Regions from separate parts of the Homo sapiens genome. Here region 2 is linked to region 1. Evidence: fine-mapped expression QTL. Tissue or cell type: visceral fat. Region 1 holds a variant in brackets; the other region holds the start of a gene. All regions are shown on one strand. Distances are between the middles of the regions.

Region 1 (2,854 bases):
TTCTATGCTCTTGAGATACTTTAGAAAACAAAACATATAAAAATCCCGGTCCTATGAAGCTTGTATTTTAGCTCATTATTCTTTTATATTCTTTTGCTTAGCCTTTTGACTTGCTCTCTTTTAGAATCAAGATAAAGAAGAAGATGTTTCTAGGCCTTCACACTCTGCAAAGAGTGACTGCCAGGAGTTTCTCCCTTTATTTCAAAATGTGGCATACGTGGGTGTGTGTGTGTGTGTGCACGCACACGTGTGTGCACGTGTTTGTGTGTGTGTACAGGAATTCCCAAATAGCCTCCATATGAAAAAAAAAATGCCTGCATGCTGCTTCACTACCATTCTTGTTTTAACAAAGGGCTTGGTAACTTAGAAAAGCAGTGCATATGAAGAAGTAAAACAATTAAGGAGGAAAAAAAACTGGTTTTTTTTTTCCCTTGGAAGACTCCACCTCTCCATTCTCTGGCTGATAATAGATGGCCAGGCATAGGGAAGCAGAGACTAGGAATTAGCCTTGTAGTTTGTCAGACGTGGCTCCTGGAGCTGAGGGCCACCCCCCAGGGGCCTGGGTGCAGTTTTAGCTCTTGGCACACTGCGTGGAAAGGTGGAGGCAGGGGGCAGAGATGAGATGTTCATCTCTGTTGCTGTGGTGACAAGGAGGTGAAGTGAAGGTACTTCAAAAATGTAAGCTACAACACGTGAGGAAAAAGGTGCCTGTGGAACTGTGTGCTTCTCTCAACCTGTCCCATTCCCTCCTAAATAATCGTGTATGGGGTATGGCAAGATGGAGATCCCAACACACATGAGACAGGGTGCCTGACCCCCAGTCCAGGAGATGAGCCTTGCAGGAGGAAAGGCAGCACACATCTGCCTTCTCGGAGCCAGGGCAGGCTGCACAAAGAGGACAACTGCCATTGATCTTGAACAAAGGGGGTGGGAGGGGCATGGTATTACAGAGAGAGACAGGACAGCATTCAGAGATGAGGCCATGAGAAAGGCAATAGAAAGTCAGGGATGGCCAAAGTCATGCCAGCTGCTACCTCTGGGAATGTGTAGAGGTCAGTGGCCCTGGAACTGGGTACAAAGGAGACTTTATCTGCAATGTTTTGTGTAATTTTAAATTAAACAAAATAAGATAAAACATCAACTACTATTGATTCTAGGTGTTGATGTCTATATATTTTCATACTCTATATTTAGTTTAGTTTTTTTTAATTGTATTTCAATCTTTTTTTTTGTCTAGCTTTTCAAATAGAATGTATTTACACATCTCTAACCATTCATCCATCCATCCATTCATGCTACTTCGTAGATATATCTTGTGTGGCTGACCAGATCTTATTTCCTCT[G/C]GAAGGTGGCCTTTGGAAGCTGCAATTGTGTTTGCCACCCAAGTCACTGGACCTTTCCCAAAATTCCAGGCCACCACTTGACCTAACCACATTCATTTCGATGCAAGTCCCTGGCATTGGGTCTTTATGAGGCGCAGATGGTCTCCAGGTCAGCACTGAGCCCTGTCTCTTTCTCTCTGTGCCCAGCTGGCATGAATTGGAAGGCAGAGGAACCGAGGGAGTTCTGAGTCACCTAGCTTGACTGAGTCAGAGATTTCTCCAGGGAGTGGTGGAAAGGGTGGCTCTTGGCAGAAGAGATCCTCATCTCAATGGTGTGGTACTTGCCTGAGATTTCCCAGAAAGCACGAAGAACATCAGGGTGGAGAGTTTCACTCTCAGCGACAAATAGAAATAATCCACTTGATTCCACATGAACTAAGTGTTGAAGAAAAACATAATCTCACATTAGCTTATCTCTTTACCCTTTACCAGAACTCAAAGATGGAAATTACCATTCTCATCCTGCTGGGAAATGACAATCATGCAGCAAATACACCATACTTTGTGTCACTTGAAACCAGTTTTATCTATTAAAAAAATACTAATCCTTAAAATATTATTCCTTTATGAAACACAAGGCCTTTTTTTTTCATAGCCTTTGTTGCAGCAAAACTCCTCAATAAATAGCACTGCCCAGAGACAGTTAGGGTAAACTTAGATCATGCAGGAAAGTGTCTGTCACTGTTTGCCTGCATCTCTAATGCCCTTGATGGGTTGGTTTCCTCCTTTTGTGCCAGTGTGGAAGTCTCATTCCCATTGTCTGCCATCAGCTAAATGTCCAAATTTGCTATAGAGCCCATCTCAATTTTGTGCACACAAGTGTTCCATAAATACCTAATTTAGTGGTTTTCTAAGAGTTGTCTGTCCAGTGTTCCCTAGGGGTCCTTCAAATATTTCCAGATGGTCAGCAAAATATGATTAAAAACTATTTTCATAAAACTGTGTTTACTCACAGTATTTCAAGTACAGGAAATATCAACAGATATAATTAATGTCACACTGAGATCCTCAATAATTTTTTAGAAAGTGAAGGGCTCCTTAGACAAAAAATGTTGAGAATCATTGCACCAATTGATTGGTTAGAGAAATACATAGCCTTACCAAGAGGTGCTAGCATATACTAATACCCAATGCTTATCTCTGAAAATGCCTTAAATCTGATGTTCCAAGACATGGAATATGAATCAGTACTGCTCTTCATCCTCTGAGAGAGCCAGTGAGGTCAGGGCTGGTCTCAGGTTTTAAAACTCCATTCAACCTCAGATTTAGTTGGATCAGTCACCTATTGAGTTCAATTAGGACTAGATGGCAAAGTTTAGAATAAAACAATTAGGTCATAAACAAAAATTTTTTAATTAACATAATGAAATGTATTACTCAGAACCAGTTTTAGTTATTTTCAGCAGAAACTACTATTTAAGTACATTAAGGGTTTTTCCAAGTCCCTTGAAGACTTCGTGGCTGAGAACTAC
Region 2 (2,648 bases), 44 kb before region 1:
AAATCACCCGTCTTCTGCGTCGCTCACGCTGGGAGCTGTAGACCGGAGCTGTTCCTATTCGGCCATCTTGGCTCCTCCCCTCTCCCCTCTTTTTTAATTTAAAGAACATTTACAAATAATTAGCAACTTGTTCACTTTTAAGTCATACCAAAAACATGGCTGAAAATGTGCACTGCTATTGAGAAATCCGGGGTACAAATGAAAATACAAGTAAGTACAACATGTCAAGGACTAAATAACAAGCTCTCATTCTGTTAGCATCTGCCCCTTAATGATCTTAACATCCAAAGTGTTTGAGGCTTTGTGCCAAGAACTATAAAATAAATCAAGATTTTTTTTGTTCAAGAATGTATGAGTCAGGTATTCAAATTAGCTAACAAGTGACTTTTGTTTCATAATAATTACATTTTAGAACTGGAAGGAACCCGAGAGAGTACACTGATCTGTGTAGAGACAGACCCTCTTTATCTCTTTCAAGTACATTTACATTAGTAAATATACCCTTTTTATCCCTCTCAAGTACTAGTATAGTTACGTTAGTCACTCGACCCAAACCTTAATAGGCTGCCAAAACGTTTTCATAAACGAAATGAAATGGAAATAAAACAGTAAGAGAAGAGGTTATTCCATATGTTGAACTTTGGTCCTGGGCTCTAAGCTCACCACTGTTTTAGTTAATGTTCACATGCTCAGAGATTGTTCCCCAAACCTACATCTTGGTAAGGCAGCTGGCTCCTGAGGAGTGAGGCGTCTTGACACCCACTTCACTGGAATCAGTCTCCTTCAGCATCCTAAGGCACTCAGCTCTAATGAACTGCCCGGACTCCCGTTTGCATTATGATAAGCTCCTCTTTAGAACCTCTACTGTCTGCTTTTGACAGCCGACCTCAAGGAATACTGACTTAATCCAGGAATCCCAATAACATTTAATATTTATCTTCCTTTTCTGGGAGGAATCTACACTTATCCAAGTTGCCCAAGTGAGCAGTTCCCTCCCCACAAGTAATTAGTTCTACTCCCCAGAGGGTCTGTGAGTGAATCCCTCTGTCAGTTTTGAAATGTCCCATTATAGTTTTCATCTGTAAATATGTCAATATGTATCCAAAAGATGAGGATCTTTAAAAACGTAATCATAATGCTACTATCATATGTAAAAATGAAACATAATTCCTTAATATCATCAGATATCCAGTGTTTAAATTTTTCCAGTCTCATGTTTTTGTACATTTTTAAATAATCACATGTTTAAATCGTTTCCATCTCCAAGGCGTCGACCTCCCCTCCATTCTCCTGGGCGTCGCGCTTCCCTCTTTGTTTCCCGCCCTTGCGGTTCTGTCGGAACCTAACGAGCTTCCTTCCACCGCAAAAGAGCTGGAGAACAATGCTAGGCAACGTGCTGGAGACCTTGGCCCTCGGAACCCAAGTCACGCCTCCCATGTGAGCTCTGGAGGGAGAACTTTATGTGTTGCACTGAGGGCAGTCTCCGGAAACGCGATTCGCAGCGGGCGCCGGAAGCGGTGTTGTGTCTGCAGCTCTGGCAGAGGACTGTTCCACTAGACACGCTGAAGGGACTGGGTACGTGTTTTCCTTCAGGACCAGAGCTGAGAGGAGCTGGGATCGCGGCGGCAATGGAACGGGCCTCAGAAAGGCGCACGGCCAGCGCGCTTTTTGCGGGGTTCCGGGCCTTGGGACTTTTCAGCAACGACATTCCACACGTGGTGCGGTTCAGCGCGCTCAAGCGCCGGTTCTATGTAACAACCTGCGTGGGCAAGAGTTTCCACACCTATGACGTGAGTGACTTCTTTTGTTAGCTTCCCAGGAAAACCACCCTCCTTGGCCTCTAACTCTGTCCTGGAGCAGTCCGGTTCTCCCTTCCCATTTACCACGGGCTTCCCTTCTTTAACCCCTCCCTGTCCTATTAATATTTCGCCATCCGGTCACGTCCACGTGCTGATTTGGCACTTGCAGTCCTCCTGGGGCGTGTTTCAGAGGCAGCCTGGCCAAGGGGAAACTGCTAGAGAACATCTCAGTTGTATGGCAGTAATATTTGTTCAGTGAATATTTATTGACCTTCCCTTGAAGGTGGAAACATAATTAAGACAAACCTCTACCTCTTGCATTCTTAATGAGAGAGAAAAACATGCACGCTATTACGTTATTGGTGACACGAGCTGAGTTAGAAATTCACTCTAGGTAGAATACATTGGGAGAACCGGAGATGGTGAGATTAATTACCGTTAGGGAAAATATCTAATAGCAATCAGTTATTTTCAACTAACGCAAAGTGTCTGGCACTGTCACTCTAAGCCTTGCAGCCGTTTCTTTGCAACATAGGTGTCATTATACCGTAGCACCTTTATATAATCTATTAAAGTAAATTTCAGATAAATCACTTGTTAGTGATGATTTTTTCTCCTATAACAGTTCATCGATCATTGTAATAGTGTCTCTTGTTTACTTGTTTCTTTTGTCTTCTCCGAAAGAATGTAACCTCTGTGAGAACAGAAACCTTGATGAGGAGGATGATAATAGTCAGTGTTAATTAAGTACTTTCTTTTCTGGAAAACAGGTAGAGTTGTCTCTCTTGGAGGATTGTGAATATCAAATGGCTTATTAGCAAAAAGAGCTGGGAGGTAGGAACTAGTTGA

Evidence for each region. PIP is the estimated chance that this variant, and not a neighbour inherited with it, causes the effect.
Region 2: it holds the start of WDR36, and the variant in region 1 is fine-mapped to the expression of WDR36 in visceral fat (GTEx, PIP above 0.99).

What each region holds. Positions count from the first base shown.
Region 1 is chr5:111,134,574-111,137,427 of GRCh38, forward strand. No RefSeq gene overlaps it. Among named protein-coding and RNA genes, the nearest start is that of WDR36, 44 kb to the left of the region's middle. The variant G/C (reference allele first, on the strand shown) is at 1,344.
Region 2 is chr5:111,090,829-111,093,476 of GRCh38, forward strand. It overlaps WDR36 (WD repeat domain 36), which reads left to right and starts at 1,520. Exons shown (of 23, transcript NM_139281.3): 1 at 1,520-1,790. The coding sequence starts at 1,629. RefSeq lists an enhancer at 1,370-1,809.